2 linked regions of the Homo sapiens genome follow. The protein of the gene in region 1 interacts with the protein of each later gene in a pairwise test. Each region holds a gene or a part of one and is shown in the gene's direction. Other genes may lie near its edges.

The links.
Region 2: the proteins of HEXB (region 1) and AIRE interact in a two-hybrid assay, tested with the Homo sapiens proteins (one large-scale study listed by BioGRID and IntAct).

What each region holds. Positions count from the first base shown.
Region 1 is NC_000005.10:74,709,141-74,712,961, forward strand, and holds part of HEXB (beta-hexosaminidase subunit beta isoform 1 preproprotein), read left to right. Parts: intron 1-3,821. UniProt on the Homo sapiens protein: Hydrolyzes the non-reducing end N-acetyl-D-hexosamine and/or sulfated N-acetyl-D-hexosamine of glycoconjugates, such as the oligosaccharide moieties from proteins and neutral glycolipids, or from certain mucopolysaccharides.
Region 2 is NC_000021.9:44,288,721-44,292,541, forward strand, and holds part of AIRE (autoimmune regulator), read left to right. Parts: intron 1-936; coding exon 937-1,082; intron 1,083-1,267; coding exon 1,268-1,348; intron 1,349-2,374; coding exon 2,375-2,490; intron 2,491-3,581; coding exon 3,582-3,681; intron 3,682-3,821. UniProt on the Homo sapiens protein: Transcription factor playing an essential role to promote self-tolerance in the thymus by regulating the expression of a wide array of self-antigens that have the commonality of being tissue-restricted in their expression pattern in the periphery, called tissue restricted antigens (TRA).

The sequences.
Region 1 (3,821 bases):
CTCAAAACTGCTCAACTACATGGAAACTGAACAACCTGCTCCTGAATGATTACTGGGTACATAACGAAATGAAGGCAGAAATAAAGATATTCTTTGAAACCAACAAGAACAAAGACACAACATACCAGAATCTCTGGGACACATTCAAAGCAGTGTGTAGAGGGAAATTTATAGCACTAAATGCCCACAAGAGAAAGCAGGAAAGATCCAAAATTGACACCCTAACATCACAATTAAAAGAACTAGAAAAGCAAGAGCAAACACATTCAAAAGCTAGCAGAAGGCAAGAAATAACTAAAATCAAAGCAGAACTGAAGGAAATAGACACACAAAAAACCCTTCAAAAAATTAATGAATCCAGAAGCTGGTTTTTTGAAAGGATCAACAAAATTGATAGAACGCTAGCAAGACTAATAAAAAAAGAGAGAAGAATCAAATAGACGCAATAAAAAATGATAAAGGGGATATCACCACCAATCCCACAGAAATACAAACTACCATCAGAGAATACTACAAACACCTCTATGCAAATAAACTAGAAAATCTAGAAGAAATGGATAAATTCCTCCACACATATACTCTCCCAAGACTAAACCAGGAAGAAGTTGAATCTCTGAATAGACCAATAACAGGAGCTGAAATTGTGGCAATAATCAATAGCTTATCAACCAAAGAGTCCAGGACCAGATGGATTCACAGCCGAATTCTACCAGAGGTACAAGGAGGAACTGGTACCATTCCTTCTGAAACTATTCCAATCAATAGAAAAAGAGGGAATCCTCCCTAACTCATTTTATGAGGCCAGCATCATCCTGATACCAAAGCCGGGCAGAGACACAACCAAAAAAGAGAATTTTAGACCAATATCCATGATGAACATTGATGCAAAAATCCTCAATAAAATACTGGCAAACCAAATCCAGCAGCACATCAAAAAGCTTATCCACCATGATCAAGTGGGCTTCATCCCTGGGACGCAAGCCTGGTTCAATATACGTAAATCAATAAATGTAATCCAGCATATAAACAGAACCAAAGACAAAAACCACATGATTATCTCAATGGATGCAGAAAAGGCCTTTGACAAAATTCAACAACCCTTCATGCTAAAAACTCTCAATAAATTAGGTATTGATGGGACATATCTCAAAATAATAAGAGCTATCTATGACAAACCCCCAGCCAATATCATACTGAATGGGCAAAAACTAGAAGCATTCCCTTTGAAACCTGGCACAAGACAGGGATGCCCCCTCTCACCACTCCTGTTCAACATAGTGTTGGAAGTTCTGGCCAGGGCAATTAGGCAGGAGAAGGAAATAAAAGGTATTCAATTAGGAAAAGAGGAAGTCAAATTGTCCCTGTTTGCAGATGACATGATTGTATATCTAGAAAACCCCATTGTCTCAGCCCAAAATCTCCTTAAGCTGATAAGCAAATTCAGCAAAGTCTCAGGATACAAAATCAATGTGCAAAAATCACAAGCATTCTTATACACCAATAACAGACAAACAGCCAAATCATGAGTGAACTCCCATTCACAATTGCTTCAAAGAGAATAAAATACCTAGGAATCCAACTTACAAGGGATGTGAAGGACCTCTTCAAGGAGAACTACAAACCACTGCTCAATGAAATAAAAGAGGATACAAACAAATGGAAGAAAATTCCATGCTCATGGGTAGGAAGAATCAATATCATGAAAATGGCCATACTGCCCAAGGTAATTTATAGATTCAATGCCATCCCCATCAAGCTACCAATGACTTTCTTCACAGAATTGGAAAAAACTACTTGAAAGTTCATATGGAACCAAAAAAGAGCCCACATTACCAAGTCAATCCTAAGCCAAAAGAACAAAGCTGGAGGCATCACGCTACCTGACTTCAAACTATACTACAAGGCTACAGTAACCAAAACAGCATGGTACTGGTACCAAAACAGAGATATAGATCAATGGAACAGAACAGAGCCCTCAGAAATAACGCTGCATATCTACAACTATCTGATGTTTGACAAACCTGAGAAAAACAAGCAATGGGGAAAGGATTCCCTATTTAATAAATGGTGCTGGGAAAACTGGCTAGCCATATGTAGAAAGCTGAAACTGGATCCCTTCCTTACACCTTATACAAAAATCAATTCAAGATGGATTAAAGACTTAAACGTTAGACCTAAAACCATAAAAACCCTAGAAGAAAACCTAGGCATTACCATTCAGGACATAGGCATGGGCAAGGACTTCATGTCTAAAACACCAAAAGCAATGGCAACAAAAGCCAAAATTGACAAATGGGATCTAATTAAACTAAAGAGCTTCTGCACAGGAAAAGAAACTACCATCAGAGTGAACAGGCAACCCACAATATGGGAGAAAATTTTCGCAACCTACTCATCTGACAAAGGAAATATCCAGAATCTACAATGAACACAAACAAATTTACAAGAAAAAAACAAACAACCCCATCAAAAAGTGGGTGAAGGACATGAACAGACACTTCTCAAAAGAAGACATTTATGCAGACAAAAAACACATGAAAAAATGCTCATCATCACTGGCCGTCAGAGAAATGCAAATCAAAACCACAATGAGATACCATCTCACACCATTTAGAATGGCAATCATTAAAAAGTCAGGAAACAACAGGTGCTGGAGAGGATGTGGAGAAATAGGAACACTTTTACACTGTTGGGACTGTAAACTAGTTCAACCATTGTGGAAGTCAGTGTGGCGATTCCTCAGGGATCTAGAACTAGAAATACCATTTGACCCAGCCATCCCATTACTGGGTATATACCCAAAGGACTATAAATCATGCTGCTGTAAAGACACATGCACACGTATGTTTATTGTGGCACTATTCACAATAGCAAAGACTTGGAACCAACCCAAATGTCCAACAATGATAGACTGGATTAAGAAAATGTGGCACATATACACCATGGAATACTATGCAGCCATAAAAAATGATGAGTTCATGTCCTTTGTAGGGACATGGATGAAATTGGAAATCATCATTCTCAGTAAACTATCACAAGAACAAAAAGCCAAACACCGCATATTCTCACTCATAGGTGGGAATTGAACAATGAGAACACATGGACACAGGAAGGGGAACATCACACACTGGGGACTGTTGTGGGGTGGGGGAGGGGGGAGGGATAGCATTGGGAGATATACCTAATGCTAGATGACGAGTTAGTGGGTGCAGCGCACCAGCATGGCACATGTATACATACGTAACTAACCTGCACATTGTGCACATGTACCCTAAAACTTAAAGTATGATAATAATAAAAAAAAGAAATGCTTTAAATTTTAAAAAAAAATTCACATTTCTCCAACTGTCTTTTTCTCTTATTTAAAAAATTATTTTAAAACATTTGCAGTGGGATACAAATAAGCTCCATAATTGTGGTGAGTTAATATGTCTAGTAATTCTTTTTTGATCTACAGGTCTGCTCTTCCCACCTTTTTCTCCTGTAATTGTTGTTGAAGAAACTGAGTCATGTGTCCTACAGTTTCCCACAGTCTGGGTTTTGCTGATTGCACCCCACAGTGTCAATTAATATGTCCCTGTATTTACTATAAACTGGTAGTTGAATCTAGTCTTGATAGAAATTTGATTTGCAGTGCTGGGAGACAAGACTGCTTTTCCGCAACTGAGCACTTATAGGCCATAGTTTGAGAAATGTGCTAAGGAACAGCTCACAACTTTAGTTACAAACAATATTGAGTTCTAATTTTTCAAGTGACCTATAAAGGGACTGAGGTAATCATTAAAAAAAAACAAGTCACTTATTCTGGAGTCTATATGGGA
Region 2 (3,821 bases), on another chromosome or scaffold:
CCATGTGCATGGGCCCTCCTGGGCCATGGGGTTGCATCCTTAGAAAGTTCTGCCTGTGCTGCTGAGACCCTCCAGGGTATCGGCATTCTTCAACCAGGACAGCCTGTAGCATAGCGTCCTTGCCCCCCATACCCTGGCCAGCCTGCAGCATCCTCGCCCGCCATTCCCTGGCCAGCCGCTGACCCCATGCAATCACCAGTGCCATCTGACCAGGGCACAGCAGGGCCGCTGGTGGCAGACCCACCGTGCCATCGGGGCATTCCATCTCAAGTCCCTGACACGGTGTCTCCTCGGTGCTGGACATGGGCTGGGAACACCAAGCACAGCCAGGGCCCTGGTCTTGCACCTCTGGATGGTCCCAAGGCCCACTGTGTTACTTCCTAAGGCTGTTGGTTAAATTGGCACAAACTGGGAGGCTTGAAATGACAGAAATGCCAACATCGAGGTGTCTCGGGGCCACACTCCCTCTGGAGGCTCCAGGGAAGAATCCTTCCTTGTGTCTCCCAGCTGCTGGTCATTATGGGGGTACCCCTGTGCTCCTTGTTCCTGGGCTCAGGACCCACCGCTCCAGCCTCTGCTTCTGTGGTCTCACAGCTGTCTCCCACGTGTCCTCTTTATAAGGACACCAGTCATTGAACTTATGGTCCAGTGTGACCTCATCTTAACTAATCACATCTACAAAGACCCTGATTTCAAGTAAGGTCACACTCTGAGGTTCTGGGTGGACGTGAACTTCGGGGGACGCTGTTGAACACCCTGGTGTAGATCCAGGACAATCCCCGGGCCCCAGACTCGACTGGGGTGGGGGCGGGCTGGAGGAATGCAGGCTGTGGGAACTCCACCTGTCTCTGCTAGACCCCACCCTGGGGCCTACACGACTGCCAAGGCAGGTCCTGCTGGGCGGGTGAGCCAGGACCAGCCGGCATCTCCTCCCAGGCGGCTCCAAGAAGTGCATCCAGGTTGGCGGGGAGTTCTACACTCCCAGCAAGTTCGAAGACTCCGGCAGTGGGAAGAACAAGGCCCGCAGCAGCAGTGGCCCGAAGCCTCTGGTTCGAGCCAAGGGAGCCCAGGGCGCTGCCCCCGTAAGCACCTGACCTTCCCTGGGGAGCCTGGCTCTTGATGCCCCCCGCCCCAGGAACAGCGTTGCCTCTGGGGGAGTGGCTCTGCTGGGGGCTGGGGGCTGCTGCCGAGAGACGCCTGGTGCCACAGCCATGTGCACCCTCGCTGCTGAGGCTGCCCCCATTGCTGACGCCCCTCTTCCTTGCAGGGTGGAGGTGAGGCTAGGCTGGGCCAGCAGGGCAGCGTTCCCGCCCCTCTGGCCCTCCCCAGTGACCCCCAGCTCCACCAGGTAATGCCCTAGACCACAGGAGAGGCCCCTGTCTGCCCTTGCTCCCCTCGGGTGGGTCCTGCTGCCTCTGCCTTTACCTGGGCACTCAGGGATGAGCACCGGGGCCTGAGCCCCTACCCACAGGGTACAGCTCTTTTTCTTTAATAGACAGTATTTTTTTCCTGATAATACGCAATGGTAATAGTTTAAATGAGTCAGAGAAAGTGAGGTCTTCTCAGGCTCTTAAGAGCATGGCGTTTGGTCCAGGCTGTACCCGCTGCTCTCAGCTGGGCCCGTGGGTGGGCCGGGCGCCCCTGCTATAGCCAGGAGGTCAAGGATCCACTGGGAATGCCATGCTCATCTTTCGTCCCCAGCATGGTTTCTTAATGGGGTAGAAGCAGTGTGGGGGGTGCCTGCCGTGGTGGGTTACAGATCTTGACCACTTGGCACCAGGGGCTCTGTGGGGCCCTGGCACTTAGCAGTGACAGGAGCCAGTCCTGCCCTGCAGGAGCACCCGGGCTGGTGGGCGTCTGGGGGATTGTTAGAATGAGTGAGGTCATTGCCGTGCAGGACCAGCCTAGCCTGGCTGTCTGGGGGGATTCTGGAGGAAGTGGTACCTGGGAGACCCCTGAAGGCACAGCAGGCACCATCCAGGCAGGGCACAAGGACGGTGGGGGCTGCAGGTGGAGGATTCAGCAGGCGCTGAGGTCGGGAGAGACCTCCCTGGGCCTGGCCCCACTGCCCTGTGAGGAAGGGTTCATGTGGTTGGTGTACAGTTCCGGGGCCCCTGGAACGCAGCAGCCTGCAAGAAACCGGGTTTTCTTCCCAATAGGGATGGCCCCGGGGGGTGTCTGTTGGAGACCAGATGGATGGGGAACAGGTGGTCAGGGCAGAATTTCAGGCCCTGGCAGCATGGGAGCAGGGCAGAGACTGGGGAGTTCAGGTACCCAGAGATGCTGCTGGGGGAGCTGTTTTGGGAAGGAGGTGGCTCTCAGGAGGGTGCTGCACCCCAGCCCAGTCTGCATGGGCGTCTCTTGCCTGTGCCAGAAGAATGAGGACGAGTGTGCCGTGTGTCGGGACGGCGGGGAGCTCATCTGCTGTGACGGCTGCCCTCGGGCCTTCCACCTGGCCTGCCTGTCCCCTCCGCTCCGGGAGATCCCCAGGTGAGCCTGCACCTCTGCCAGCGCAACCAGGCCACCCCGGTTCACGGCCGCCTCCACCCACTGACCCTGAAGGGAAGCCACCCCAAGCCTCTCCCATCCAAGATGGAAAGGGGTTCTGAGTCAGGTCACTGGGCCGTGGGGCCGGGGCCTGGGGTTTTCCCACCCTGCCACCTGCCTCCCGGTCTGGCCACACCTGCTGCCCAGCCTGGACAGCTGGGCCCCTGAGGGCAGCAAAGCAGAACAGAGGCCCAGGGCGAAGATGCCACCCTGTCCAAGCTCATCCCAGGCTGCAGCCCACGCCCCCATGGGTAGCCGGCCCCCACCCCCAAGCCCCACCCCAGAGTCCCACTCCAGACAGGGCTGGGGAGCACAGAGGCCACAGAGCTGTGCCCCCCAGGGCAGGTGGGAGTTTGTCCACCAATGCACAGGACGCCGGGCTTAGTGGGGGCGGGAGGCCTCCTCTGCGTTCACATCCCGGTGCTCCTTCCCCACGGCCCACCGAGCCCTGCCCCCATTCCAACCCCACAGGACGTGGCAGTCTGTGGGAGGAAGAGCTCTGGGTGCAGTGGGGACCCACGTTCAGGCGAGGCTCTGCCCCAGCCCCTGAGTGGCCGTCATCAGGCCCCCTCTCAGCCTTGTGCCTCATCACTAGAATAAGGGGCACAGTGGGGGTCATTGCTCGGCTCCTGAAGCCGTTCCTCCTTGCCGTCTCTTTCTGCCCTTGATCACCTCCCCATTCTGCTGGGTGCCATTCCCCTTAACAGGTGGGTCAGTTTAGGGAGGCCCCCGGCAGGGCCCAGCCCTGAGAGGCAGGCAAAGCCACCAGGGCTCGCAGGTGTTGGGGATTCCTGGGGTTCATCAGAGAGCACGCCAAGGGGACCCTGATCACGCTGGCCAGGGCCACCCCACGAAGGGTAAATGTCCCCCTGCTGGGCTCTCCCTTCCTGTGTCTCTGCCCATCTCTCTGCTGTGCCTCGGTTCCCCCTCTGTGAAAAGACATGGTCGGAGCCCTGGAGCTCCACCCGTGGGTTTGGGGATCTGTCACCCGCTGTCTTGTTCTGCATGTCTCTGACTGGTGGACACACGAGCAGTGGGACCTGGAGGTGCTCCAGCTGCCTGCAGGCAACAGTCCAGGAGGTGCAGCCCCGGGCAGAGGAGCCCCGGCCCCAGGAGCCACCCGTGGAGACCCCGGTATGGCCACGCCCCCTCCTAGCCGGGCCACCCCTCCTGTCCACATGGCCACGCCCCCTCCTAGGCTGGGCCACCCCCTCCTGTCCGTCTGTCCCCTGGAGTCCTGTGGGACAGGACTGCCCCAGCCATAGCACTATGTC